Homo sapiens: one gene and its partners. The protein of the gene in region 2 interacts with the protein of the main gene of each other region in a pairwise test. Each region holds a gene or a part of one and is shown on either strand. Other genes may lie near its edges. The genes, in order: DNM1L, RRM2 and CCNF.

Region 1 (10,633 bases), on a different chromosome or scaffold from region 2:
CCAAGGACTATCAGAAAATCCACTTGATGATTTAGAATAAAAACCTAAAATTGTAAAAATACATGTATTTTTCAAAACAGATCACAGAATCATCCAGAAGTATTAAAGTCCGTCATTTATATTAAGTAATACTAACCTGTCTTGAATATTCTTTCTGACAATGAGAAAATATGATTTAATGAGTCGTTCAATAACCTCACAATCTCGCTGTTCCCGAGCAGATAGTTTTCGTGCAACAGGAACTGGCTAAATAGGGATGAGGGGGAAAAAATATTACTTTTGTGACACTAAAATGGCAGCTTTAACATCTGAAAGTTATGTAAGTTTTTGAGACTTTTAGTTCTTTCTGTCTAATCGTTTTCCTACTAACTTGGTCACCTACCTTATTACCTAAACCAAATTGTCATGGCTTACCACATCTAGCAGGTTCACGGCATGACCTTTTTGTGGACTGGCTGGCATAATTGGAATGGGTTTTGATTTTTCTTCTGCTAATAACTCTTCAGCTTTTGAAGTTTTCAGCATTCCTCTCCAGTTGCCTGTGGTTGGTTCTTGAACACCATCTCCAACCCCACCACCTCCAGATGCAACCTGAAAAAACATGTTCCAAAACATACCAACCACATCATATCTGACCTTAACTAAAACAAAGTTCATTTTATTTGACAGTAGTCAATATACATCCAGTACCCATCTGAAGTTTATTCAGACAGATAATGAGGTCAGAAGGAGACACTAGGTAGCATGTATAACTGGAACCCTGACCTATCTAAATAATAAAGAAGTTCTGCTCTAAGTTGTTTGCAAGGCATCAACCAACTTATGTTCTATTTAATTCCTTTTTTCTTTATCATTCGCTAACTTTTCAAAATCGTTCCTCTTCTCCCACCCTTCAAACACTAAATTGTAGGAAAAGTATATGCTGCCCTTAAAAACAAAACTACTCGTTAAAAGCACAAAGAACTGCTATTCAGTTTAATTTCTTAAGTAATCATTAACACTGTTAAACTCTAAAAGTTCCATGAACTTACGTCTCTGAACTTAAGAGTTTATATGTTTCTCAATTTACATTTCTAATAGTCAACAAAAATGCCATAAGGTATAAGTAAGAACTCTTTAACAAAAAGCAAGACTACATTTGCTATTCTTAGGCTGACAGTCACTGTGAGTTGTTTCAAATGCGGAATGTGACAAACAACAGAAGTCCCCTCAACCTCTGTACTCTTAAGGATTTGCTGAAAGAAATCTAGTGCTACCATTAATCACAAGTGCTTTTGTACCTTGTTTTCTAGAAAATGTATTAGTCTTGACTTCTAAAAGTCAAAAATGACTTTATAATGGAAAAACAATTCATCAACATTTAAGAGGGTTTTTTTTAGGTATTCTTTAAGATCTTACAATCTAAAAATGGATTATATAAGTTTAATAGAGGATTATGGCAGTTAGAAAAATGGTAGTTTGAGGTATCATTCTGAATCAAAATATTTGCTAAAATCTGTCTTTAGTATGTCAGTTAAGGTGAACTACATTTAAATATAAGTAGTATATTTATGTTACACATTAACTTAAAAATGAGTAATTAGATTTTTAAATGTTTGTTAACTATACATGAATGACATACCAAATGAAATCTTAAGGAGAGAGAGCACATTCAGTGTGACGTCATGAATGAAATAAAACTTGTGCAGTGATTTAGATGGTTTGATTAATATCTGAGCACAGTGGGCTGAGAGAAGATAAGACATTTATAAACCTTTATTTGAAGTTCAGAACTTTAAATCTGGATAATTAAGGAAAGGAGCTAAATGGCAGAAAATCTTGAAATAGCGATGAGTCTGAATAATTTATACATTATTTAATTTTCCTCTAAAATGGTTATCAAGAATTGAAAACAGTCTCAAACTCTCACAGTCCCCATTTGTTTTTTTAATTTGCTTAAGCTTCTGAAGCATATGTGAAGCTATATATAGGGTAACAAGTGCAAACTAACTGGAAGCATAAGAAAGAAGCATTAGATCTATTAGTACTGAACAGATCTCAAGATCTTTAAAGAGGAAAGGAAATGTCCAAAAATACAATTCCATCTCTGAAATCTAGGAAATCTCTGAATTTCCTACCAAAATACTAAATTTAAAACTATTCTTGAAGGTAACAAAACAGTGAGAAAGCCTATTATTGTTACTAATTAAAACAACGTTTAATGCCATCTTCCACAGGTTAGATAAAAGGAACATTAAGAACATAACACAGACAAGAGATAGATACCACTACACAAACAGGTTCTTTAATGGTGGTATAGACAGTGTTTCAGTGAGAACCAAAGGTACCAACATTTCCATTCTGAAGCAAGAGACTCACATTTTTAGTTTCTCTTCTGCTGTCCTGAATTAACTGTTAAAAGATATGTTAAAACATGCAATTTAACAAGCAAAATTTAAATACCAATGGGTTGAAATTCAAAAAGTGCAGGATAATTTCCTCTTTAAATTACTTTTTCTGTGTGCATCTTCTATATTGCAAGCAAAAGCATGTCAACAATATAAACTATGCATTGCATTGTTATATAATTTTAAAATATATATTAGACTAAAGTGATCTGACCTTAGCACAGTATCCCATATTAATATTCTTCTATTCAGTGTATTGTTTCCAGAAGATTATGTTGTACCAGAGAACAAGGCATGCAGGCTTAGATTAAGAATCAGAACAGACCTTGCCATCAGCCTCAGCAGAAGCAGCGGGGGAGGGCTCCTGGGAGGCAGGTGCCAAAGCACTTGGAACTTTAGAAGACTAAAGGCAAAAAATCCAGGGGGGAAAAAAAATCAAGGATGCAAAAATGCATTCAGGAACATTCTATAAATGAATTTTTCCCTTCTGTAATGAAATCGTAAAATAACATGAAAGATGAAAATAATCATGGGAGATTGTTTATTCTGCCTTATTTCCTTCACCATTGTCACCTTTGTTAAAAGTTTCCTTCAGATGAATACATAAGAAAAATCCAAATCCAAAAGCTTCATTTTTATTTTTGGTATTTAATAAGATTCTTTTCTGGCAAAGAATTCAAGGTAAAAGATTTTTATACACACTTTAGTATTACAACTATTTTAATTATTACTAGTAATTAAAACCTCTGTTCTGTGCATACTGTTTTTTCCAAGAAACCCTCTTATTATAATAAAATCTTGAGTCATTTCAGCTATGTGCAAAGTTGATAAAGTCACTGACTGAATTTTTTTAAAAAGCTTGATGCTTAAATGCTTAAATAAATGCTTAAATCTACTTTTAAGCATTTATGTCAGTGAATTCAAAATACTATTATCTTTAAATCACTCAAAACCCATTTTAAACTTGTATGCCTTTACTCAGTTAGTTCCAATGGAGTGTTAAAGGGAGGAAAAGAAGAAAAAATTACTCCTAGGACTGAGTAATATTCTGAGCTCATCAATCTATCTTTAGGTATTGGGAATATGCATTAAAAACATTTTTTTACCTTGTCTCGTGATACAGCTGAAGGTAATTCTCTGGCTAGCCTGTTTCTCCTTTGTTCCTAAGAAACACAAGCAAAACAAAAGTGATTATCCAAGTATTGAGATATATGCCTACTAAAAAATGTTCATGTTAATTGAAAAGTGTGGAGTAACTTACAGATACATCCTCTCACTGTTGGGACTCATGCCATAATTATCATATTTTAAAATAAATAAGAAATCATTTAACCCAAAGCTTCTTAATCTTTTTTTTTTCTGCCCACACACCTGAAGGATACAATACACTGTCAGTAACAGTGGCTCCCTGTACTGGGGATTCTCAAATGAGGGGCAACAGACTGCCATCTTCTCCCCCTTTCCCACTAAGAAACAGTGATGTAAACTGTCCTCACATAAATGTGGAACGTGGTAAGCCTTCAACATAACCATGTGGAATTTGAAGTCCAGAGATCACAGAAAACTCCGCAAAGCCTTTAAAAGTCACTCTAACCTGAACACCTTTGTGTTAAACTCAAACAACTCCCCTCATAAAACCGTATCTTGAAGAAGTATCTGTGGTTGAGGTTATCCTATAAAAATGTTCCATTTCTTCCTCCAGGAAATAGTGTTGACAACTGCTAGTCCTTTCTGTAACCTGGCTAATTTAACACACTGATCAATTGCCTACTGTTCTAATTTGCTAATATTATCAAAGTAACTTGTACAAAGCTAAAGAAACTGACAAATTCAAATTAGAATGTCCCGAGCATCTGCTATATCCAAGCACCAAGATAGGTAAAAGATTATGAAAATATTGGCCGGGCACAGTGCCTCATGCTTGTAATCCCAGCACTTTGGGAGGCCAAGGTGGGCAGATCACTTGAGGGCAGTTCAAGACCAGCCTGGCCAAAATGGTGAAACCCTGTCTCTACTAAAAATATAAAAATTAGCCAGGCATGGTGCCGCACACCTGTAATCCCAGCTACTCAGGAGGCTGCGGCAGGAGAACTGCTTGAACCCAGGAGGCAGAGGTTGCAGTGAGCAGAGCTCATGCCACTGCACTCCAGCCTGGGCGACAGAGTGAGACTCTGTCTTAAAAAAAAAAAAAAAAAAAAAAGATTATGAAGATATAGAAATCTGTAGATGTTAATTAATGATGGATCTCTCACAGGCAGCATCAGATAAAGTAGAAACTATTTAGGTTAAAGTCACAATTGCTCCTAAGTAGGAAGTATTTCATGAACACAGTCCAACTTGCAAAAAAATATAAGTTAAAGCCTCACAATGATTTTGTTTTTGTTTTTTGTTGAAATGGAGTCTCGCTCTGTCGCCCAGGCTGGAGTGCAGTGGTGTGATCTTGGCTCACTGCAACCTCCGCCTCCTGGATTCAATGGATTCTCCCTGCTGCAGCCTCCCTACTAGCTGGGATTACAGGCATCCACCACCCCCGGCTAATTTTTCTATTTTTAGTAGAGACAGTTTTGCCACGTTGGCCAGGCTAGACTTGAACTCCTGACCTCAGGTGATCAGCCTGCCTCGGCCTACCAAAGTGCTGGGATTACAGGCATGAGCCACCGCACACAGCCCACAGTGATGTTTCATGTGTAATAATTTTTTTTGACAGAAATTTGACCCAATTTTATTTTTTCATGGGCGGGTATTCAGTAATAAAAAATAACAGATAATAAAAGTATAGATATTAACAATCTTCAAAATAAAAAATTAGCATGATAAAATGTACATTTTGAACAGGGATACAAAGCAAAAGGCCACGGTATCTAGAATTCTCACCCTAGTCTGTTACTAACCAGTTATGATCTGAGCTGCTCCTGGACCCCAGCAGATGTGGAGTACCTGCTTTGCTAACTGGACAGCTTACCAACTATTTTGAAGCCCTAGTGTCCTAATCTGTTAATGACATGATCTGCCCTCAGGGTATGGTAAAGATTAAATGAAAATATCCACATAAAGTTCTCTGGCACAGTCATTAAAACCAGAAACCTATTCATTTGTAGAAAAATACTAATCTGAAATCATATCACATATGACCTTGTCAGTGTAACAGAACTACCGCAAACACAAGTTTTTCATGATGTTAGTTTCAATGTAAAAAAAACTAAATCCTTTAAGTGTCTACATGCTAATTTTTAACATAACTGTGATCTGGCCTACTTTCTGAGTGTTTTGAAGTGCCTACTCATGTATGCATTTTGGAATTTTTTCTGATAACAGGAATCACCCCCAGCTATGTAACCAAAAATTAGTTCCCTATACCTGTGTTAAGAAGGTGCTTGCTTCCTATAATAGTGCCCTGCAAAATAAGCACCAAAGGAATAACTGCTATCTGTAAGCCTCAAGCTCCCCAGTTTTTTTTTAAGATGGAGTTTCGCCCTTGTTGCCCAGGCTGGAGTGCAATGGCGCGATCTCAGCTCACTGCAACCTCCACCTCCTGGGTTCAAGTTGATTCTCCTGCCTCAGCCTCCCTAGTAGCTCAGATTACAGGCACCTGCCACCAAGCCCGGCTAATTTTTTGTATTTTTAGTAGAGACGGGGTTTCACCATGTTGGCCAGGCTGGTCTCAAACTCCTGATGTCAGGTGATCCACCTGCCTTGACCTCCCAAATTGCTGGGATTACAGGCATGAGCCACCACGTCTGGCCACCCCATCTGTTTTAACCAGAGTTGAAGTCAATAACACAGGATCCCTTCCAGCTTCTGAATTGCATGTTTACAATTTTCTCACCATGGATATGCAGAAGAGGAAATTTGGTATAGCAGGGGACTCAGGTCTTACTGAATTAGGGAGTAGCAGAAAAATGTACTATTTTTGGAGAAAAGCGGCAGAGAAAAAAAATGGCTTCTGGATAAATTGCTCTGTCCACCAGCCTTGGCTCCATCTGAGATCTTATTCAATTTGTTACATTAAAATCAAAAGGAAAGAAAAGATCCATGAAATGCAGCCACCCCAGTAGTGGTGAAAAAAGCACTCTGCTTTTCCAAATTTATGCTAAGTTGGTTAATTCTTGAGTGTTTCCTTCACAGCTTTCAAAGCCAAATGAAAAGAATTTTAAATACTTTGTTGTACACACTTCCCCTGTATAAACTATAAGTTACCAAAATAGAGCCAGTCACACCAAATCAATGAATTTTCAGATTCTTTCTGAATTTCAATTTCATAAGCAGAAAGTAATAATGCCTGCAGGTGGTTTTGAGAATTAAGAAAACAATGTAATCCCCTCAGCATATTTCCTGACATGCAGCAGGCACTAATGTGGCACATGTCTATTTTATAGTTACTCCATGCTAAATAAGTTTGATATAACTGAGTTACAACAGATTTTTCTACCTGTGAAAAAGCATTTAAGAATTATATTTACCTCTATATTATTGTTCATTAGCCCACAAGCATCAGCAAAGTCTGGATGTTTTGTGTTGATATAAGCCAGTTCAATTGCCACTAAGTTATGGACCTAGAAAAAAAGTAAGTTAGGCGATATACAAAAATACATCAACCATATTTTACTTTGAGAAATTTATATATAAAACTTATGAAACAGACAATACCGAAAAAGTACAGGAAACTTATGCCTAAATTACTTGATAATTATATTCCAACTGATAAATCTTATGCCAAACAATAATTTACTCTAGCTTTAAAATTATTTACATTTCAGCATCTAAAACTGCATTTCTAAGAGGGAAAAATAACATTAAAGTAACTACAAGTATTTTACTCTTAGGGAAAAATAGTCATCTACCTAATGCAAATCTAAATTCCAACACTTTATGCAACTTTGCTATTAAAACTTCAGATCATCCACTATTCCCTGTCACTTTTTTAGTTCATTTTCAACAATAAGAAAATAAGTTCGTAACAAGGCATAAGTTAAAGATGTTAACTTATTTGGGTAAAGGATACATCTAAGGACCTGAGGTAGTGACTGATTAGCCTTAACTATAAAGCACCTAGTTAAAATATTATATGTAGTTCAAAATCCTAAGAGGAAAATAAAAAAGAAAAGTTAAAATTAATTTATCCAGCCCTCTACAGAATTGCTAAGTCTTTTTGTTTGTTTGTTTGTTTGAGACGGAGTTTCGCTCTCATTGCCCAGGCTGGAGTGCAATGGCGCGATCTCGGCTCACCGCAGCCTCCACCTCCCAGGTTCAAGTGATTCTCCTGCCTGCCTCAGCCTCCCCAGTAGCTGGGATTACAGGCATGCACCACCACGCCCGGCTAATTTTGTATTTTTAGTAGAGAGGGGGTTTCTCCATGTTGGTCAGGCTGGTCTCAAACTTCCGACCTCAAGTGATCCACCCGCCTCGACTTCCCAAAGTGTTGGGATTACAGGTGTGAGCCACCACACCACTGAGTCTTACAGAGAGAATAAACTTGAGCCCTTTATTATGTGCTGTCCTAACAAATCTCAGGTATCAGAACAGCACTTATCAGTCCAGAACTGGGTAAAAAGGGTCTATTAAAATGAAGGTCCAATGATTCTGGGCTAAATTCAGTCTTAGACATCAGAATCTGAGGGCTATCCTTGCTAAAGAAACAACCAAGCAGCAGCACTTACATTCCAAGGATGGTTTTGTACTCTTAGTAAACCTCCACGGGGTTCACCATCCTGAGCCAAGGACCCAAATGCACTTTTAGTGATCAGAAAGAAAACAAAAAACAAAAAACCCAGCCAACAATTAGAGGCATGAGGGCAATTTTAAATGCTTATCCCATATTTCTGCCAATTTCAGCATTTTTATTTGTGTGGATAGCAGCAACCCACAGAATAGTAGCAAGCAACTACGATATTATAGTTATTAGGTCATAACAAGCAAACTGCAGAAGTGGCCAGATTACTCCGATGTACCTCAAAGTAACAGTGTGCTATAAATGCTCAGTTTACTGAGGCTAAAGATGGAACTAATTTTCTCTTAAGATCAGTGGTACTAAATAATACAGCAAAGCTATTCACACCCCTCAATCATAAATCTATTTTCAAGAAAACCCATGCCTGCAGGCTAACAATGATTAAAATATGAAGAAAAAATGCACTTTATACCAGAATTATTAAAAATTTTCCTTTAAAATGAGACTGAAACTCAACTTGTTTTTCCTCCCAATACACTGGAAAACATTATGCCTACACTCTAAAGTAACCATATAATGCTTATTAAAAAGCAGCCAAGCAAAAATTTAAACTTTTACTAATAGTAATTACAATGATCTATGCTATAGTAGCTCACCATTTCATTTGTAACAGGCAACCTTTTACGAAGAAGACAAGTCACCACTTCAACTATGGCATCATGAAGTTTAGGAAATCGTAACAATTCCTACAAATGGTAGATGAAAGAAAAACGTGTTTGTTTTTTGTTTTTTTTTTAAGTCATAGTCTCACTAAGCCATCCTCCCACCTTAGCCTCCCAAGTAGCTGAGACTACATGTAGAAGCCACCATGCCAGGCTAACAGTCATTTTCTTTTACTTAATGATCACAGAAATACTGAATTCAATTTGGAGACTACATTTAAGAATCCTATTTCAAATCACTTTCAGGTAAGGGAACTACAGATTTTACCTTGTATCCCATCTTATACATTTCCTTCCACCCAGTGAAACCACCACTTCATGTCCTTTTCTAGTTCATGTGAAACCTGTTACATTTCTCTCCGTTACCTGTGTACTGTAATTGCTACAGTGCTGAATGATCCTTTGCATTTCCTCATGAACCAGTTCCACACAGCGGAGGCTGGGCTCTTCTAGACGTTTGATTTGCCGCTTCACCAGTAACTCAAATGAAACCTCAGGCACAAATAAAGCAGGACGAGGACCCTGAGAAAATAAAACTTAGAACTCTTATTATATATGTAATTTCAGTTCTTCCCAAGGGTTAAGAAAGTCACATTTTTGGTACTTTTCATGAAAAATGCTTTTTAATTTCAAATATGAGAGCAAAATAAACTGTATAATTAAATTTAAAAAGACACAGTATATGGGTAAGAAAAACTTTAACCTCATTTTTTTTTACAGTCTAAAAAGCTAAACATACTCACAGTAGCATTTCTAATGGCAGTCAAAATGTCAATAGTGTTAAGGCCACCAAGTGGATCAACAGATTCTAAGGTTCGCCCAAAAGTCTCATGGAAAATATAACAAATTCTAGCACCACCGCATCTGAAAGGCAATGAAGTATATGGTTTCTGGCATTGCAAAAAGGGAAAGAAGATACAAGTTAGAAGTCTTTCTAGAAGCTTTAAGCTCATCTTATTTTCTGAGAAAGCCTCAGATAAACAATTTCATTCATTCCCATTACCATGTGTTCTAACTCAGCTCATTATGAACTAGTTTCTCTAATTTTTTTAAAGGGGAAAAGGAATCATTAAATTATATATATGTAAATATAATAAATGTTCTGACATAAATCAACAGTTAACTAAGAATTGCTAAGCACCTTTTCTCTGCCCTAGTTTTCCTTGAGGACAGGAAACAGTGCCTTATATTTATTTCCATTGATTCACAATCTGAAGTAGAGGTTGGCAAACTTTTTCCATAAAGGGTCACATAGTATTTTAGGCTTTTCAGGCCATACAGTCTCTGCTGCAACTACTCAACTCTACCATTAAGCACATAAGCAGCCATAGACAATATGTAAATAAATAAGTATAGCTTGTTAGCCAGGCTTGTCTCAAACTCCTGACCTCAAGTGATCCGCCCGCCTTGACCTCCCAAAGTGCTGGGATCACAGGCGTGAGCCACCCGTGCCCAGCCCTACTCTTGCTTTAGACAAATTAAATCTCTCTTTTTTTGTTGTTTTGTTTCTTTTTGAGACGGAGTCTCGCTGTGTCGCCCAGGCTGGAGTGCAGTGGTGCGCTCTTGGCTTACTGCAACCTCCGCCTCCTGGGTTCAAGCGATTCTCCTGCCTCAGCCTCCCAAGTAGCTGGGACTACAGGCATGTGCCACCATGCCCACCTAATTTTTGTATTTTTAGTAGAGACGGGGTTTCACCACGTTGGCCAGGATGGTCTTGATCTCTTGACCTCGTGATCTGCCCACCTCGGCCTCCCAAAGTGCTGAGATTACAGGCATGAGCCACCACGCCCAGCCTTAGACAAATTAAATCTCTTGATATAGTTACTGAGCACCTTATGTTTCCTATCTTGTTTAAT
Region 2 (9,809 bases):
CTCTAAGGGACTAACAACCACTCGGAGAGCTGCTACAAGTTCCGGGGCCTCCATGGTCACTTTCTTTGTTCCCAAAAGAGGTCATTCTCCTTTCCCAGGAGGTGATCATCTATTTAACTTTTTTTTTTTTTTTTTTTTTTGAGATGGAGTTTCACTCTTGTCGCCCAGGCTGGAGTGCAATCTCAGCTCACTACAACCTCTGCCTCCCAGGTTCAAGTGATTCTCCTGCCTCAGCCTCCGGAGTAATGGGATTACAGACATGGGCCACCACACCCGGCTAAATTTTGTATTTTTAGTAGAGATGGGGTCTCACCATGTTGGCCAGGCTGGTCTCAAACTCCTGACCTCAGGTGATCCGCCCACCTCAGCCTCCCAAAGTGCTGGGATTACAGGCGCGAGCCACCATGCCCGGCCCACCTATTTAACTTTTTGCTGTGCTATTTATCATGGGCAGGTGTTTGAAGCAAGAGGAGTTCGGTTCCTTAGTCCACCACCTTGCTGGAGCCACTCCAGTCTCTAGAGCCAAGGCTAAGGTGAACATGACTACTGAACCTTAAGCAGCAATGGGTTCAGCTATTCTCATCATTAAAAAAAAAAAAAAAAAAAATCCTGATGTCATATTCCCTCCAGGGAATGGCAGGGAGACACCACTGATGTGTTCCCTTCTGTGTCCAGACAGACACCAGGAGGGTAGCCCCTCTATACTCAGGGACTGCTGGAAGAGGCCAGGCCACGCAGTCCAACTGCAGCCACTCACGGATGAGGGGCTGGGCCTGTGCCTGTCTTGCTAAGAGGAGTTAAACCATTATCAGGATCTCCAGACCGACACTGGCAGGGCCACTGATCCTCAAAATACAGCCAGTTAGCTCCCTGGCCAGGTGACAGAACACCCATCTGGTTCCTCCTTTGCATGACAAAGTCCTCAGGTCAGAGGCCACAGCAGTACCAGGTGAAGGGAGGTTTTGGTAGGTCTGCTTTTAGCAGCCAGGCCTGGCCACTGCAGCTGGGCAGGGCCCCGAATGTGCACACACAATGAAGTGTAACTCTTACACAGCATGTCTAGAACACACCAGAAAACACATCTGGAACATGCTGAAGCTCAGCAGGGCTGCCTTTTCCCCAAGTGAGATCCAGACTTTAGTAGCTTTTAAAAGCCCCCAGGTGATTATAATTCACACCCAGGACTGACGTCCACTGGTTTGAACTTTATGTCAGGAGTCTATCCCACCCGATCTCAAGTGTCTGAGATCTCCCATTAAGATTACAGGGTCCCTGGTTTACCCCCAGACTGATTCAGTAGGTCTGGGGGTGAGGCCGGGGAGGATGTATCTAATGAGTACCCAGGGCAATTGACTCAGCAGCCTGACCACTCAACTCTCTGCAGGCCCTCCTCGGGCAGCATGGGAGACATGTTCTATAGAGCATGGCAGCTGGCATGGGGCCGGGGGGAGCAGAACAGACTGCAGGCCACCCACAGGGAGGCTGTCCTAGTAGTTGGTCATCTTCTTGACGCCTGGCTGCCCCGAACTTGTGCAATAGGCCCAGCGCCAACCTGACATTACAAATCAAATGACCTTAACTGAACACTTTTAGGTGTAAAGGCAAAGCTCTCTACTAGGTTCCTCTGGGACACAGATCACACTTTTACCCAAGATACCATCCACCCCAAAATACTTCAGTTCCAATTAGTTTATTTCCCCATGTACCAGTCACTTAAATACCTGATCCTTGGAGGCCTTATGCTTATAAATATAAAGACAGATAAAAATCTGTGCCCTCAAAGACAACTTTCTCTTACAGAGCAGCACGGGAAGAAATCTTCATGAGAACACAGGAGTCGGAAGCAGCACAACCTCAGACACTAGTCCCAGTCCCCTCCACTAAGGAAACATCATCTCCCCCCATGAGACCTCTCCCAATCACTCCCATCCACCTTAGAATTCTCTGCTGCCCCCACCACTGCCCAACAATTCAGATCTACTCATCTATCAGTTTTCCTCTCTAGGAGTAAACCCAAGCTCCAGAGGGAGGGGCCTCCCCTCTGGCTTAGCGCCCCATCTTCCTGAATTAAAATGCAGGTAGAAAACGTCACCTGACAAGAGAGCTGCTGTTTGTTCAATGAACTGAATGGCAGTGGCGTGAGGTACAAGGAATGATTGGTTCGTTTGGGGATGGGTGTCATGAATTCTAAAAGGCTTTATCAAAGTGGGTGGGATTCCGAGTCAGGAAAGGGCCTTTATAGACACAGGGACCAATCCAAACCTGTGCTGGAGTCCACACAGGTCAGATGTGGGACAGCAGAGCAAAACTCCAGCTGGGAAGACCTCTAGCCCCACCTGTTTTGCAAACGGGAAAAGAGCCCCAGGAGTGGCTCCCCCACGGTTGAGAAGTTAACTCAGCCCCGGCTTCACAAACCCCACGTGCAGTATGGCAGTTAGTATTTTTGGGCACCACCTTTCGGGTGTACCTGTCTCCTATACACCTTGTGCCAATAGGCACAAGGCAAGTCTCTTGCCCAGAACCAGTGGAAAGCAAATGAATTCGTTAGCCTTTACAAAAAACACCTTTTTTTTTCAGACAGTCTCACTCTGCTGCCCAGGCTGGAGTGCAGCGGTGCAATCTCAGCTCACTGCAACCTCTGCCTCCCGGGTTCAAGTGATTCTCCTGCCTCAGCCTCACGAGTAGCTGGGATTACAGGCGTGTGCCACCATGCCAGGCTAATTTTTGTATTTTTAGTAGAGATGGGGTGTCACCATGTTGGCCAGGCTGATCTCGAACTCCTGAGCTCAGGTGATCTGCCTACCTTGGTCTCCCAAAGTGCTGGGATTACAGCCATGCCTGGCCAAAAAATATTTCTCTTCCTGAATTAAAATGCAAATTTTACCAATCAAGAAACTGACATAAGAACAGTTTTATTTTAATCACTTAAGACTTGTGCATTATTCAATTTTGAGACTGAAATACTTGTTTCCCTTTCAACTGATTAGGAAATGGTCTGAGCTGGCAGAAGTTAATCCTCACATTATTCAGCTAATGAGAGACAGAATCCTAAAACCTGATTCCAACTTCCGCCTGTACCTCACAATGCAAGACAAAGCCTTTCATTTTAATGTTGTACACATATAAGGACCATATAATCTGGATTAACTTTAGGTAACAATAACTTAAAAGATAGGAAAATGTATCATATTACAGAGATTTAAAAATTGTCTATACAATAAATGATGAAGAAAACTAACAATAAACAGGACGACGTTCAAATACTGAATACAATTAACAAATGGGGCCAAAAGATCAACATTTATCTCTCATCATCTTTCATGCAATGTCTCAGCTTTCTTCTCCCAAACATAAAGGCAGATTAATTCAAAGTAGCCCTATTAAGAATATTTGTTTATCACGCCTGCAATCCCAGCACTTTGGGAGGCCGAGGTGGGTGGATCACCTGAGGTCAGGAGTTCAAGACCAGCCTGACCAATATGGTGAAACTCCATCTCTACTAAAAATACAAAAATTAGCCAGGTGTGGTAGCACATACCTGCAGTCCCAGCTACTAGGGAGGCTGAGACAGGAGAATTGCTTGAACCCAGGAGATGGAGGTTACAGTGAGCCAAAATCGCGCCACTGCACTCCAGCCTGGGCAACAGAGCGAGACTCCATCTCAAAAAAAAAAAAAAAAATTATGTTTCATTCTGAAATTAATATTTGAATGGAAACTGTATTAACAGCTCATGGTTTCCTACTAAAGTTTAAGATCCCCCTAGACAATGCTCAGATTTAGACAATGCCAGAATAAGACACTGGGTGACTGAAGTATGAACTACAGGTAAAATCTAGAAGAACATAGATAATAAAAAATTTCTGATTTAACAGACATAGTAAATATAAATGAATTAACTCACACAACCTACTTACACCAAACAAAACTAGAATGAACAACTTGTAGGAACCACCTCTAGTTGATTTCACCACTTAACAGGGGCAAGATCTTAGGTGGATCATTTTGTTTAAGGATGACTTGAAATTTTACAATACTACCTTAGCTCCCACATATGAAAACTCTTCAAGAATTTTTTCTCATCAACCAGACGTTGAGGAAAATACAGTGAGAAATAAAATGAAACGGCTTCTCACACATATGAAGGCCCAGATCACCCCTAAATTTCTAGTGATTTAACTTAAGAAGCTCCTTGCCCTGAGAGATTCCTTTATCCCACAACACTCTACTCAGAGGGGGCAGAGAATCCCAGGACACTACACAAGCCACAGGATAAAAACACAACCTGTCTTCTATCTGGCACCAACTGACTAATATCTAGGTATACACAGGACTGACTTTAAAGTTGGTTAACAAATATTTTAATTCATTAAAATAAAACTTAAAAATTACATGCTTAGTCTACACAAGTTTAACTTACTTTAGTCACTTAGTGAATTGTGAATTGGCTCCCATTAGTGGTCAGGAGAATGTATTTGGTGTAGAAACCAAATAAATCAAGCTATTATCGCCTTGTGAGTACAAACAATGTTTATTTGTTTGTAAAGTGCCAGGTTTATATTTAAGTAAACATTAAAATCTGCGTTGAAGCAGTGAGGCTGCATCTTTTAACTGGCTGTGCTGGTTAAAGGACTGTTTAATCCCGCTGTGCTAAGCTCACTAAAGGGTCACCCCTCACTTTAAAGCCAAGACTGCCATTGTCACTGCTATGGTAAGTCACAGCCAGCCAGGCCTTCTGGCAAAAGGTGATACTACCAGCACTATAAACAGACAGGACTGGTTGTGAGGTAGCTACACAGTTTTAAAGATGCTGTTAATGAACATTACGGACAATTCATGGTGTGGCTAGTTGGTAACACTTCAGCTGATTTTTCTTATGAGATGGAAAAAAAAAATCAGCCAAGTAAGGGCACATCTTCAGTTCATTTAGAAGTCAGCATCCAAGGTAAAAGAATTCTCTGTTGGACTTGACATCACTCCCATCCTCTGATACTCGCCTACTCTCTTCTCAAAGAAGTTAGTCTTTCCTTCCAGTGAAATATTCTCCATAAAGTCAAATGGGTTCTCTACTCTGAAAACCTGAAAAGGTTCACATCAAGATATAAATACAGAGCACCAGCTTCAAAACAAGCAAAAGGCTATGTAAACAATACTTTACCTTGCTAAAACCCAGTTCCAGCATAAGTCTGTCTGCCACAAACTCAATGTATTGCTTCATTAGAGTGCAATTCATCCCAATGAGCTTCACAGGCAAGGCCTCAGTGAGGAACTCCTAGGAACCAAAATACAGCTTCTGAATACAACTAAAGCACAGGCATTTTCTAGCAAGCTTGAGTGACCCATTTCATCACCCACTTTACCTGTTCTATCCGAACAGCATTGATAATTATTTCTCTTACTCTCTCCTCCGATGGTTTGTGTACCAGGTGTTTGAACATCAGGCAAGCAAAATCACAGTGTAAACCCTAGAAAAAAAAGTTCAAGATCACTAAAGCCAGAAGACTTCTGTCATTAACATGGAATATGAAATTACTTTGTCCTTTTCTGCATTCTCCTTATCCAACATGCTCAGCCATACTGAGAGCACTTGAACTCTCAAAGGGAAGATGACTTCAACTACTGACTTCTCTGCTGATGTCACTACCAAGGCAAGCTCAGTCCCATTCAAGACCCTCAAAGTTGCCACCTAGATGAAGACAGGCAAGGTGTATTTCTTGCTCTGCTGTGTGTTGGCAAAGGAGGAGTCAGAGCTTCACTCAGTGATCTTTCTACAGCCATGAGTGCTAATTTTGCCACTACTCCCAGCAGGAAAGGCAAAGCTCAGTAATAAGGCTAGTTTTTAGATGCTCAGGAAATTTGTATGCAATTTCAAGTAAATCAAGTTTGCAAGTTACTGCATTAAACATCAAGCTTCACAGCTTATCTCCCAATCCAGTAAGGAAGGCCCTCCTACAAGGTAACCATATTTGATTTGCCCACTGGGCTCCAAGTAAGATGGAGTTCATGCTCCTGGCTTTTCAAATGTGACTTAATCAAAGACATACACTAGACCAAAATGTATACTCATTTCATTGAAATGCTTATTAATATTGAAGTAGAGGGGCAATTTCTAGATCAAACAGGAGAAACATAATGGCTACTATGAACATTCTTTTTCGGGGGGACTGTCACCCAGGCTGGAGTGCAGTGGTGTGATCTTGACTCACTGCAACCTCCACCTCCCAGGTTCAGGCGATTCTCCTACCTCAGCCTCTCAAGTAGCTGGGACAATAGGCACGTCCACCATACCCGGCTAATTTTTTGTATTTTTAGTAGAGATGGGGTTTCACCGTGTTAGCCAGGATGGTCTCAATCTCCTGACCTCATGATCCACCCGCCTCGGCCTACCAAAGTGCTGGGATTACAGGCATGAGCCACCGCTCCTGGCTCTACTATGAACATTTTTACGGAAAAAGGGATAACATATTAATACCAGGCAAAAATAATAAAACATCCCTTAAAATCCCAATCCCATCAATAACTTGTAGTTTTGGCTGGGCATGGTGGCTCATGCCTATAATCCCAGCACTCTGGGAGGCCGAGGCGGGTGGATCACCTGATCACCTGAGGTCAGGAGTTCAACCCCAGTCTGGCAAACATGGTGAAACCCCGTCTGTATAAAAAGACGAAAATTAGCTGGGCATGGTGGCAGGCACCTACAATCCCAGCTACTTGGGAGGCTGAGGCGGGAGAATCACTTGAACCTAGGAGGCAGAGGTTGCAGTGAGCCAAGATCACGCCATTGCACTCCAGCCTGGAACGACAGAGCAAGATTCCGTCACCTCAAAAAACAAAGAACTTGTAGTTTTATGCATTCAAAGCCTATAGGGGAATACATATGTACAAATGTATTACAATATATTGAGAATGCAAGTAAAACAGTTTCAGTAAATGAAAGTATTTCCTTCTTTTGTCAAGTATGTGTATGGTTGAACTCACACATTAAATGTGGATATATGCCATCTAGCATCTCAGGTCCCCGTCAGTGAACACAAGAGCATGCCCGAGTTGTGTTTGGGGTTTAGGTCACCCTATTATTTGACTTAGACTCACCTCATCTCTGCTAATAAGTTCATTAGAAAATGTGAGGCCAGGCATCAGTCCTCGTTTCTTGAGCCAGAATATCGACGCAAAAGAACCGGAAAAGAAAATGCCTTCCACTGCAGCAAAGGCTACAACACGTTCACCTATTTAGGAGTTAACACCAACATGATTCTAGTGAGTTGGTATTCAAGGGCCAAAAATCCAGTAACATTACTTGGAAAATGAAGCTCAGGTTTAAGTAGGGGCAAGGGTCTCCTTACCATAGGTAGCCTCTTTGTCCCCAATCCAGCGCAAGGCCCAGTCTGCCTTCTTCTTGACACAAGGCATCGTTTCAATGGCATTGAAGAGAAATTCCCTAGTAGGCACATACGGTATCAGCAATTGAAGCATTACAGTAAAAGACCTCCGATTACCAACTGCTAGATAAGAGCTCTGGGACAAAGGCCAAATTCAAGTATTTGCCAATCCTCTTCCTAAAGGAAGAACTCACACCGAAATGTTTTATTTTTACTGGTCAGTTTTTCCCTCCAGTGTTCTTTTAAAAACCTCAACACTTGATTTACATTAATACAAGTTTGGGTATTCTGTAGTTCATATTGAGCTTCAGGGTCTACAGACAGTAAAACATAGTCCAGTACAGCAGGGACATTTGTTGCCTTTAAAATTATTTCAAGTCCAGATCATTGTTCAATTTGAAGAATCATAGAATTTAAATTTGAAGAACCATAAAATCCTAACTGCTGTGCTATTATCAGACTATGATTAGGTGCATTATTTGGCCTCAGTTGCCACACCTATATCATAAAATAATTAAACCAATAAACTAAGATTGCTTCCTACTAGGACTCTGTGCTACACTGTCGATCCCAGGTCAGGAAAGCAAATCCATGGGTACTACAGTTAACTGGATCTCCCTTACCACCCTCCTCTGCCTCCCTTTATTCTGGTGCCCACCTTGAGAGGCTACTCATTTCCCAGACTGTTCCTACCCAGATGACTTTGTGTTCTGAAGCCAAGGGCACCAGACATTGGGCAGCTTTTTTTTTTTTTTTTTTTTTTTTTTTTTTAAAGAGATGAGGGTCTCACTCTGTTGCCCAGGCTAGAGTGCAGCGAGATGATCACAGCTCACGGTAAAACCAAACTCCAGGGCTCAAGCCATCCTTCTGCCTCAGCCTGCCAAGTAGCTGGGACTACTAGCTCAGACTACCATGCCCAGCTGTCGTTCATTCTTTCCATCTCACTGTCCCTCTCTCTGAGACCTGGGTCTGCCTCTCCCTTGTTTTTGAGGCTTCCCCAGCAGACCTTCCTGTTCCCCTTCTGGGCATTTGCCCCCGATCGTACCCCTAATCTTTGCCTTCTTTTCTCAATTTCCACCTATAAACATGTTCAAATCTCTTTACTCCCAATGTTTCCTCAGTCCTTTCAAGTTACCACTTTTCCTCTTCATGTACTTCAAAGTCTACAACGGCTACTTTAGGTTGCAGCTTCACCACTTCCACTCCATACAAGGTTCTGGTCCCCAAAGCTGACCTTTGTTTTTTTTGCTTGGTTTTGCTTTTTGAGACGGAGTCTTGCTCTGTCACCCAGGCTGGAGCGCAAGCTCCGCCTCCCGGGTTCACGCCATTCTCCTGTCTCAGCCTCCCAAGCAGCTGGGACTACAGGCGCCCGCCACCACTTTTTTTATTTTTAGTAGAGACGGGGTTTCACCGTGTTAGCCAGGATGGTCTCGATCTCCTGACCTCATTGTCCGCCCGCTTCAGCCTCCCAAAGTGCTGGGATTACAGGCGAGAACCACCGCGCGCCACCCTAAAGCTGACCTTTGTATCTAGACTACTCCAGCAGCCCATTTCTAATCCCCCCACCTCCAATCTCCAAAACAAAACAGACCTTAAGCTACCTTTATTCAGCCAAACTCCTGCATGCCTAAATCAGTCTCAGGGTTCACTGCTGCCTCTGCCTTATGTAACTCCTACTAAGTCTTATTTGCCTATACTATACTGCAGGCTTCTTAGGAGGCAAGTCCTCCCCGTCCATCCCACTGCAGCCCCACATTCTAGCTTCTCAACAACTTTACCAAATGAGCAAAGATGGTCAGACATAGGTTTTAGTTTGTCTTACCCAACATCTAGGAATTTTTTCAAAAGAAGGTTTTACATTGGTAGACATCCAACTTTAAAAGGAGTACCTTCACAACTCTAAGTGAATAATAAAGTGCATTTAGGCCCCTTGCTAAGAGCAGACATGACCACGGGTGCTGGGAATGCCTATGACTGTCTTAGTCATTCTGGAGTCATTTTTATCCCTAGGTGAACTAAAAATGTGTAATAAATCAACAATTAGTGAGTCCTAAAAATCTTGGCATACCACTTGAATACTCACCTTTCTTTGGGATCTTTTATGTAAGTGTCAATAAGAAGACTATACATTTCAGAATGTATGTTTTCCATGGCAATTTGGAAGCCATAGAAACAGCGGGCTTCTGTAATCTGAACTTCTTGGCTAAATCGCTCCACCTAGTGGCAAAACACATCAAAGTTAAGCTTGAGAAAAAACCAACAGCAGCAACTGTCAACGGATACTGGCAGCATCGCACTCTTTGTACCATTATAAGGTTTATTTCTATATATATTTCATCCAATTTGTCACAATTCTTTGATATTTTATGTCATATGCTCAACTTACATATCAGGAAATAGATACATATAAAATAGGATTTGTGAGCGCTCGA
Region 3 (10,633 bases), on a different chromosome or scaffold from region 2:
GGGAACGCATCTGGAAATCAGCTGGCACAGAGGAGGAAGCCTGAGAGCCAGGGTGGGCTGTGGAGTTCTGGGTACACGTGCTGACAGCTGGAAACATGGGGCTGAGGCTGCATGGGGCAGTGGGAGCTCAAGACACAAATCTGGCCAGGTGTGGTGGCTCACGCCTGTCATCCTAGCACTTTGGGAGGCCGAGGCTGGAGAATTGCTTGTGGCCAGGTGTTCGAGACCAGTCTGGGCAACATGATGAAATCTCGAAACCTCGTCTCTACAAAAAATACAAAAAAGTTAGCCAGGGGTGGTGGTGCATACCTATAGTCCCAGCTACTCAGGAGGCTGCGGTGGGAGGATCGCTTGAGCCTGGGAGGTTGAGCTTGCAATGAGCCGTGACTATGCCAATGCACTCCAGCCTGGGTGACAGAGCAAGACCCTGTTTCCCTTTAAAAAAAAAAAAAAAAAAAGACTGAAATCTGGGAGTGGCCCTCTGCAGGGGAGGGAGGGCCAGACAGCAGGGCCATGGGCATGGGACCCAAAGACAGACAAGGGAGTGGTGGCCCCCGGGCAGTTCTCTGTGCTGGAAATCACACTTCTTTCTCCTTTTTTTAAAGACTCACAAAGCATCCATATTGCACTGCTTGGGCAGAGTGCTGAGTCTGTTCGAGGTGAGTCAAGTTGTTCTCTGCACTGGGACTTTGTGTTCGATACATCCCTAGCCGAGATCCTGGAACTGAAAAGCAGCAGAAGGGGGTGTCCAAGGCCCAAAACAAAAGGCAAGCCTTGCCCAGAAAGGCCTAGCTGGAGAAGCCAGGGGACACATGTGGGCCTGGCCACGGGCTCCGATCCTGGCTCCATGACCCGCCTGGCAGGGGAGTGGGGGACGGTGAGAACAGCAGAGCAGATCTCAAGGAGGCATCGAACCTCGATGCTCACTCGTCTGCTGGCCCTGCTCCTCGTGGGCCTCTCCTGCTCGTGTGGACCTCTCTGCCTGGCCAAAATGGTGAAACCACGTCTTTACTAAAAAACACAAAAATTAGCTGGGCGTGGTGGCGGGTGCCCATAATCCCAGCTACTCAGGAGGCTGAGGCAGGGAGAATTGCTTGAACCTGGGAAGCGGAGGTTGCAGTGAGCCGAGATTGCACCACTGCACTCCAGCCTGGCAACAGAGTGAGACTCAGTCTCAGAAAAAAAAAAAAAAAGTATGGAAAAGGAGGAAGATGGTGAGTAGAGTGATTGAACATCAAGTAAAGAATAAGGGCCGGTCATGGTGGCTCATTCCTGTAATCCCAGCACCTTGGGAGGCCGAGGCGGGTGGATCACCTGAGGTCAGGAGTTTGAGACCAACCTGGCCAATGTGTTGAAACCACGTCTTTACTAAAAAACACAAAAATTAGCCGGGCATGGTGGTGGGCACCTGTAATCCTAGCTACTTGGGAGGCTGAGGCATGAGAGTTGCTTGAACCCGGGAAGCTGAGGTTTTAGTTAGCCAAGATCGTGCCACTATACTTTGGCCTGGGTGACAGAGGGAGACTCTGCCTCAACAACAACAAAAAAACCAGCCAGGCACAGTGGCTCATGCCTGTAATCCCAGCACTTTGGGAGACTGAGGTGGGTGGATCACCTGAGGCCAGGATTTTGAGACCAGCCTGGCCAACATGGTGAAACCCCGTCTCTACTAAAAATACAAAAATTAGCCGGGCATGATGGTGGGCTCCTGTAATCCCAGCTACTCAGGAGGCTGAGGCAGGAGAATTGGTTGAACCCAGGAGGCGGAGGTTGCAGTGAGCCAGGATGGCGCCATTGCACTCCAACCTGGGCGACGAGTGAAACTGTCTCAAAAAATAAAAATGAAAAAGAATAAGGGAACAATGAACTCTGCTGGGATTTATTCTAGGATGAGGAGAAGCAGCAGCAGGCCCATGACCTGTTTGAGGAGGCTGCTCATCAGGGATGTCTGACCAGCTCCTACCTCCTCTGGGAAAGCGACAGGAGGACAGATGTGAGTGGTGCCTGCTCTGGGTCGGGGGGAGTTATGCTGGACAAAGGCGTAGTTGATGCTGGTCCTTGGATGCGTTTCTGTCCACAAAAGGGAGGTGGCTCTTGCTGCTCCCGGTCTCTCAGCCTCCGGGAACCACTGGTCAGTCGGCTATTCTTGGTACCCCCAAAAATGACTCCACCATTTGAGAGAGAAGAGGTGGGAAGTTAGCGTAGTGTCGGCCCTTCTGGGTCTTGGTTCTGAGTTCCTCCCAAGACACAGTTGTACAAAGGCTCGGTGATCTCCCATTGACAGGTGTCAGATCCTGGGCGATGCCTCCACAGCTTCCGAAAACTCAGGGACTACGCTGCCAAAGGCTGCTGGGAAGCGCAGGTGAGGTGCGGGGCTGGGATGACGTGGGGAGCTGGCCTTTCTCCCTCCAGCCTTGGGGCAGGACTATCTGGGCTCCCACATTGGGGGGCAGGACTATCTGGGCTCCCACATGGGAGGCCAGGATTGAGGGACACCCTAAGATCGGTTCAGCACTGGAACTGGTCCTAAAGGACAGGTACACTGTGAGAAGAGCTGGGAAATGCGTTATTCATCTCTGCCTATCCACTCTTGCCTCTCAGCCAGCCAACCTCTTAATTTTCAAATGCTTGTGAGCTATAGCTGCTGTCAAAATTTGTGCCATTCTTGAAAGTTGTCCCATAGGTAGAACTGATCTTGACAACAAAACTTGAGGCTACTTGAGAGCAGAGGGGCGTGGAGAGTCCCTTCCTGCTTCCTCTTCCTGTTAGCGCCTTGCTTGTCATGTCACCTGGTCACCAAGTCATCCAGGGCTACAGGCAGGAAATCAAGCATTGGTAGACTCTCCCCTCACAGCTATAAATAAGTTGTTAGGGCCAGGTGCGGTGGCTCACGCCTGAAATCCCAGCACTCTGGGAGGCCAAGGTGGGCGGATGACCTGAGGTCAGGAGTTCGAGACCAGCCTGGCCAACATGGTGAAACCATCGCTACTAAAAATACAAAAATTAGCTGGGCGTGGTGGCAGGCACCTGATACTCAGGAAGTTGAGGCAGGAGAATCGCTTGAACCCGGGAGGCAGAGGTTGCAGTACCACTACACTCCAGCCTGGGCGACAGAGCAAGACTCTGTCTGAAGGAAAAAAAAAGTTGTCAGGACGAATCAAAGAAAGCTCCTATTTGCCAAATGGATAGAAGCTTGTTCTTGTCACCCCACCAAGTGGGTGGCAGAGTGATCTGCGCTCAAATGCTAGGGACAAAATTACAAATTGATAATGGCCCAGCCCGAGGTGTCATAGCACATTGTGGTGTTCACGTCCAAAAAGCCAGTCTACAGATTTACAAGAAGGCCAGACGTGATGGCTCACGCCTGCAATCCCAGCGCTGTAGGAGGTTGAGTTGGGAGGATCGCTTGAGCCCAGGAGTTCAAGACCAGCTCTGGCAACATAGTGAGACTCCATCTCGACAAAAAATTTTAAAATTAGCTGGATGGGCTGGGTGCAAGTGGCTCATGCCTGTAATGCCAGCACTTTGGGAGGCTGAGGCGGGCGGATCACGAGGTCAAGAGGTCGAGACCACCCTGGCCAATGTGGTGAAACCCCGTCTTTACTAAAAATACAAAAAAATTAGCTGGGCCTGGTGGCATGTGCCTAGAGTCCCAGCTACGCGGGAGGCTGAGGCAGGAGAATTGCTTGAACCCAGGAGGAGGAAGTTGCAGTGAGCCGAGATTGTGCCACTGCACTCCAGCCTGGCAACAGAGCGATACTCCATCTCAAAAAAAAAAAAAATTAGCTGGATGTGGTGGCGTGTGCCTTGTAGTGCAGCTACTCAGGAGGCTGAGGCAGGAGGATCACTTGAGCCTGCGAGGTCAAAGCTGCAGAGAGCCGTGATCGCAACATTGCACTTCAGCCTGGGCTACAGAGGGAGACCCTATCTCAACAAAAACATTGTTTACAAGAAATGCAACAACGTAGTTCTCGTGGAAGTTCAAGGGGCCTCAGTCAATTCTCACAAAAGAGGAAATAGGGCCGGGCGCAGTGGCTCACATTTATAATCCCAACACTTTGGGAGGCTGAGGCGGGAGGATCACTTGAAGCCAGGAGTTCTCTCTGTTGCCCAGGCTAGAGCACAGTGGTGCGATCTCAGCTCACTGCAACCTCTGACGCCTGGGTTCAAGCCTTCTGAGTAGCTGGGACTATAGGTGCCTGCCACCACGCCCAGCTAATTTTTGTATTTTTAGTAGAGGTGGGGTTTCACCATGTTGGCCAGGCTGGTCTAAAACTCCTGACCTCAAGTAATCTGCCCTCCTCGGCCTCCCAAAGTGTTGGGATTACAGGAGTGAGCCACTGCACCTGGCCAAAAAAAATTAATAATAAATAAATAAACTCAAGTGGTTAGAAATTGGAATGTTCAACCTTACTACTAGTCATAAGAGTGCACTTTTAAATGAGATATTTTGGGCTCATGATATTAGCAAATTATATATATATATATATATATATATATATATATATATATATATATGTTTTTGTTTTTGTTTTGTTTTGTTTTGTTTTGTTTTGTTTTTGATGGAGTCTTGCTCTGTTGCCCAGGCTGGAGCGCAGTGGCACAATCTCGGCTCACCACAAGCTCCGCCTCCTGGGTTCATGCCATTCTCCTGCCTCAGCCTCCCAAGTAGCTGGGACTACAGGCATTGCACCACCACGCCCAGCTAAATTTTTTGTATTTTTAGTAGAGACAGGGTTTCACCATGTTAGCCAGGATGGTCTGGATCTCCTGACTTCGTGATCTGCCCGCCTCGGCCTCCTAAAGTGCTGGGATTACAGGCTTGAGCCACCGCACCCAGCCCTTAATTATATATATATAATATCCATAATTAGATATATTTATAATATCTATTATTATATTATAACATAATTATATTTAGTCTGCCAGCTATTTATAATATATAATATTATATAATATAATATTATTATATATAATATATAATATTATATAATATAATATTATTATATATAATATATAATATTATATAATATAATATTATTATATATAATATATAATATTATATAATATAATATTATTATATATAATATATAATATTATATAATATAATATTATTATATATAATATATAATATTATATAATATAATATTATATATAATATATAATATTATATAATATAATATTATTATATATAATATATAATATTATATATAATATCATATTATTATATAATAATTATATATAAATATGTATTTATATATTGTATAACATATAATTATATAATAATTATAATAATATAATATATATCATATATAATATTATATATTATATTCTATAATATATAATATATTCTATAATATATGTAATATTATATTCTATTATATATAATATATATTATATTATATATATTATATTATAATTATATATTATATATTATATAATATATAAATATATATTAATATATATGATTATTATATATTATTATATTATATATTTTTATATATTTATATATTATATATTATTTATGTTAATTATATATTATATAATTATATTATATGTTCTATAATATATAATATAATATTATGTTATAATATCTATAATATATATTATAGATATATTATATATAATAGATATTTTTATATATAATATATTACATATTATATATTATATGTTTTATATTGTATATAATATATATTATATATAATATATATATAATATATAATATATATATATTTCTCTGTTTTTGGGTGGCTAGCTGGTAACTTCTGAAAATAGCTGTTTTTAATAATCACAGTGTTTGCTGGGATGAAGCTGTGATGAGGCAGGTGCTCCTATTCCTGGGTGTAAACATTGGCAGAAGCCTTTCGGAGAGCACTGGGGCGTATGGCCAGAGACTTAACACAGCTTCCCCAGGCATTAGCCATGTAAGAAACTGAGACCTGAGCCACGGTGGAAAGGCCACTGACATTTCATTATATATCTTTTCTCATGTCATCTATTACTTATACAAAAAGGAATAATAATTAAAACCTGAGCCATCCTTGTTCCCGAAGCTTGTGAAGGTTTAAGTTAAGTAGGGCAGTGTGTCCACATGCATTTGGTGCCTGAATGGGCCTTTGCTTCAGAAATGGAAAACTGCAACATGGCTGCTGTCTCACGCTCATGTTTGTCTTTTCTTCCTCAGCTGTCTTTAGCCAAAGCCTGTGCAAATGCAAACCAGCTTGGACTGGAGGTGAGAGCTTCCAGTGAGATCGTCTGCCAGCTATTTCAGGCTTCCCAGGCTGTCAGTAAACAACAAGTCTTCTCCGTGCAGAAGGGACTCAATGACACAATGAGGTGAGGCATTCAGGCCGGGGCTTCTAATCAGAGCGGCGCGGAAGCCAGCCTCCAGGGGAAGGGAGCCCTTTCCACTTAACCCCAGTTACCTGTGACAGGGCGGCATAGAGTTCCCTTATCACCCTTTTTTTTTTTTTGAAGTGGAGTCTCGCTCTGTCGCCCAGGCTGGAGTGCAGTGGCGCGATCTCAGCTCACTGCAAGCTCCGCCTCCTGGGTTCGAGCAATTCTCCTGCCTCAGCCTCCCGAGTAGCTGGGACTACAGGCACCCACCACCATGCCCGGCTAATTTTTTGTATTTTTAGTAGAGATGGGGTTTCACCATGTTAGCCAGGATGGTCTCAATCTCCTGACCTCGTGATCCGCCCGCTTTGGCCTCCCAAAGTGCTGGGATTACAGGCGTGAGCCACCGCGCCCAGCCTTGGGTGTTTTTTAAAACCAGTAATGCCAAAGTTATCGTGGACTTTTTGGAAGAAAATATCCTACTCTGCTTTCTTCAGTTACTTTTTTTTTTTTTTTTGAGACGGAGTCTTGCTCTGTCACCCAGGCTGGAGTGCAGTGGCGTGATCTCGGCTCACTGCAAGCTCCACCTCCCGGGTTCACACCATTCTCCTGCCTCAGCCTCCTCAGGAGCTGGGACTACAGGTGCCTGCCACCACGCCCAGCTAATTTTTTTGTATTTTTAGTAGAGATGGGGTTTCATCGTATTAGCCAGGATGGTCTCAATCTCCTGACCTCGTGATCCGCCTGCCTCCGCCTCCCAAAGTGCTGGGATTACAGGCGTGAGCCACCACGCCCAGCCACCTTTTTTTTTTTTGAGACAGGGTCTGGCTCTGTCACCCAGGCCAGAGTGCAGTGGCATGATTTCAGCTCACTGCAGCCTCCGCCTCCCAAGCTCAAGAGATCCTCCCACCTTACCCTCCTGAGTAGCTGGGACTACAGATGCACACCACCATGCACAGCTAATTGTTGTATTTTTAGTAGAGACAGGGTATCACTATGTTGCCCAGGCTAGTCTTGAACTCCTGGGCTCAAGCGAACCTCCTGCCCCAGCCTCCCACAGTGCAGTGATCTTTTTTAAGCCACAGAACACATTGAACATCTTTTTTTTTTTTTTGAGGCAGGCTGTCTGTCACCCAGGGTGGAGTGCAGTGGTGTGTTCTCGGCTTGCTGTAACCTCTGCCTCGGGCTCAAGCCTTTCTCCTGCCTCAGTCCCCCAAGTAGGACTACAAGTGTCTCCACTCTATTCAGAAAGGCATTTACCATATTGGGGCATCATTTACCGTATTGGGGCATTCCCTTGCGACTGTCCACCTTCTCCCGCTCCCTGCACGCCCCGAGGGTCAGGGTTCATCCACTGTGGGCAGACCAACGGCTGTGGGCTGACTTTTCACTTTGCGTCAGGTCGAGGTCTCAAAGCGCTTGTGTTTGGGAGCACCAGGAACACAGTCGAAGGATGTGGGGCCTGCTTTGGGGCTGGGACCCACGGAGCCTCCCGGGCTTCCTGTGACATGGCCTCTCCAGCCTTGGTTCCAGGGTAAACCCATGATTCCAGAGCTAGCCAGCTTATTTGGTCGGGCCCAACAGGTGGGGTTGAAATCGCAGACAGGGACACATGGAGAACGCCCCCACCAGTTCCCACGTGCTTCTCTTTCCGCAGGTACATTCTGATCGACTGGCTGGTGGAAGTTGCCACCATGAAGGACTTCACAAGCCTGTGCCTGCACCTGACCGTGGAGTGTGTGGACCGGTACCTGCGGAGGAGGCTGGTGCCGCGGTACAGGCTCCAGCTGCTGGGCATCGCCTGCATGGTCATCTGCACCCGGTGAGAAGCCCCCTTGGCCCAGCTGGCAGGGACGTGCTGGCCTTTCCCGGGTTCAGGGTCACCTGCCCTTCATGTGCTCCTCACTGGTTTGGTTTTGTTTTGTGTTGTTTTTTTTTTTTTCCCGAGACCAAGTCTCGCTCTGTCACCCAGGCTGGAGTGCAGTGGTGCGATCTTGGCTCACCGCAACCTCTGCCTCCCAGGTTCAAGTGATTCTTCTGCCTCAGCCTCCAGAGTAGCTGGGACTGCAGGCGTGCGCCACCATGCCCGACTAATTTTTTTGTATTTTTAGTAGAGACGGGGTTTCATCATGTTGGTCAGGCTGGTCTCAAACTCTTGATTTCAAATGATCCGCCCGCCTCAACCTCCCAAAATGCTGGGATTACAGGCACAAGCCACTGCGCCTGGCCCTCACTGGTTCTTGACTCATGAGCCACGAGTGTCCCACCTGGTCAGACATGGAGTGCCACGCTGAGGGCCTTTTGCAGGCAGGGGTGGCAGAACAGCCTTCAGCGTGTGGGGGCCGCTGTGTGGGGTGCCTGCATCCAGGCAATTCATCCTGGCATGCAGTCTCAGGACCCAAAGTGTGGCCTCGCTCTGGCAGGCACAGGCTGGACTGCCCTGTCCCCTGGCTCCTGAGGGCAGCAGGATGACTGATCAGGGAGGGTGGCAGTTGGCTGCCCTTCTCTGAAGTTGGGTTCTAAAGTCTGTTGCCAGAGTTTCCTACACTCTTGGAGTTAGAGAGTTTTTCGTCCCCCACTGGTGCCCTGCAGAGCCCACTCCAGCCACGTGGGTGTCTCTCAGCAGCAGCGTGCGTCCTTACACGGCAGCCTGTCCTTTTCAAATCAGACCACTGCTTTCCTTTAACTAATGCTGGATCCCCTAGTTCCGCCTTTGGAAATAACGTGGAAATGATTCTCACAATACGATTTGCATTTCCTAAACCAGCTGTCCCCAGCATGGTCTACATTTCCCGAGGAAGTGCTTTCCAGACCGACTCCTCTGTAGAGCCTGGTGGGTGAGGATAGGCTTGGCTGCACACAGCATATGTGTAAGCTACAGAGACTTGTTTCTTTCTTGCACAGGTAACCCAGAGGCAGAGGTTCCAGGCTCAGGTCATTGGCATGTTTTTTGTTTCATGAGGAAGCAGAGGAGCCCCATCTCCCATCTTAATCTCTGCCACCAACTAGGGTGCTGCCCTTGTCCCTGTGACACCTGTACCTGCCACATTCACCTTTGCACTGAGCTTAGTCTTGTGACCACATCTCACCAGACGGGAACTGGGAGGTGTAGTCTCTTCGGGCCTGTGTGTGCCAGCTCGATGCAGTGTCATTCCCATGGAAGGAGGGAGCAAACCCTGCCACAAGCATCCAGAGCTGTCTTCAGATGCGCTCTTGGGCCTGAATCCAGCGTCCCAGGTCTTCCGACCAGAGACGACTGAGGAGGTCGGGCGGCCGCCTCCCTGGATCTGACTGCACATCCATCACTGCAACCTACGACAAAGCTCCTGGGCCACAACCGGCTGGCAGTGAGAGAATAACTGCTAAAAACGTTTCAGGGAGCTGAGTCCAATTTCTTCCCCAACCACAAGACCTGATTGCAGTGGTCCATATAACTATCACCACAGCTCCCTCAAATCAACTCTGCCTTATTATCTTTTTTTTTTTTTTTTTTAAATCCGGGGACCAGGCACGGTGGCTCACGCCTGTAATCCCAGCACTTTGGGAGGCTGATGTGGGCGGATCGTGAGGTCAGGAGTTCAAGACCAGCCTGGCCAACATGGTGAAACCCTGTCTCTACTAAAGATACAAAAAATTAGCTGGGCGTGGTGGTGCATGCCTGTAATCCCAGCTACTCAGGAGGCTGAGGCAGGAGAATTGCTTGAACCCGAGAGGCAGAGGTTGCAGTGAGCCAAGATTACACCATTGCACTGCAGCCTGGGCAATGGCGCAAGACTCTGTCTCAAAAAAATACAAACAAAATTAGCCAGACGTGGTAGTGGGCGCCTGTAGTCCCATCTACTTGGGAGGCTGAGGCATGAGAATCACTTGAACCTGGGAGGCGGAGGTTGCAGTGAGCTGAGATAGCGCCACTGCACTAATCCAGCCTGGGTGACAGAGGGAAACTCTGTCTCAAAAAAAAAAAGATTTTAAAGGCTGAGCTGCCCCCCACCTCTGCTCTCAGAGGTGCCCTGCCCCCACCAGCCATCTCACACCCCACGCTGGGCTCTCATTGGCCACTGACATCTTGTCTTTTTGGCGTCTGCAGCCCCCACGCTGGCAGGTGTAGTCCCTGCGCCTCTTGTCCTCTTGGTCAAGTGAATGACGCATGCAACCTGCAGAGTCCCCAGGACAGAGCAGCCAAGGGACTTGGCCTCAGTCCAAGGGGAAGGTGCCTTGCGGGGGGCCGCTGGAGCAGCGTGTTCCCTGATAGTTGGCGCTGGTTGACAACAGAGAACAGGGTGACCATCGCCTAGAG

What was found.
Region 1: the proteins of RRM2 (region 2) and DNM1L interact in a two-hybrid assay, tested with the Homo sapiens proteins (one study listed by BioGRID and IntAct).
Region 3: the proteins of RRM2 (region 2) and CCNF interact in binary tests that used the Homo sapiens proteins (3 or more experiments, as listed by UniProt).

Annotation. Positions count from the first base shown.
Region 1 is NC_000012.12:32,730,022-32,740,654, reverse strand, and holds part of DNM1L (dynamin-1-like protein), read right to left. Parts: intron 9,642-10,633; coding exon 9,521-9,641; intron 9,300-9,520; coding exon 9,144-9,299; intron 8,802-9,143; coding exon 8,712-8,801; intron 6,941-8,711; coding exon 6,848-6,940; intron 3,551-6,847; coding exon 3,494-3,550; intron 2,791-3,493; coding exon 2,713-2,790; intron 2,392-2,712; coding exon 2,359-2,391; intron 592-2,358; coding exon 415-591; intron 247-414; coding exon 137-246; intron 1-136. UniProt on the Homo sapiens protein: Functions in mitochondrial and peroxisomal division.
Region 2 is NC_000002.12:10,124,502-10,134,310, reverse strand, and holds the end of RRM2 (ribonucleoside-diphosphate reductase subunit M2), read right to left. Parts: intron 9,595-9,809; coding exon 9,461-9,594; intron 7,437-9,460; coding exon 7,342-7,436; intron 7,225-7,341; coding exon 7,091-7,224; intron 5,464-7,090; coding exon 5,359-5,463; intron 5,271-5,358; coding exon 5,157-5,270; intron 5,078-5,156; coding exon 4,925-5,077; 3' UTR 2,897-4,924; downstream 1-2,896. UniProt on the Homo sapiens protein: Provides the precursors necessary for DNA synthesis. Catalyzes the biosynthesis of deoxyribonucleotides from the corresponding ribonucleotides. Inhibits Wnt signaling.
Region 3 is NC_000016.10:2,437,465-2,448,097, forward strand, and holds part of CCNF (cyclin-F), read left to right. Parts: intron 1-605; coding exon 606-659; intron 660-1,888; coding exon 1,889-1,993; intron 1,994-2,284; coding exon 2,285-2,362; intron 2,363-6,184; coding exon 6,185-6,336; intron 6,337-7,927; exon of another isoform or gene 7,928-7,993; coding exon 7,994-8,158; intron 8,159-10,633. UniProt on the Homo sapiens protein: Substrate recognition component of a SCF (SKP1-CUL1-F-box protein) E3 ubiquitin-protein ligase complex which mediates the ubiquitination and subsequent proteasomal degradation of target proteins.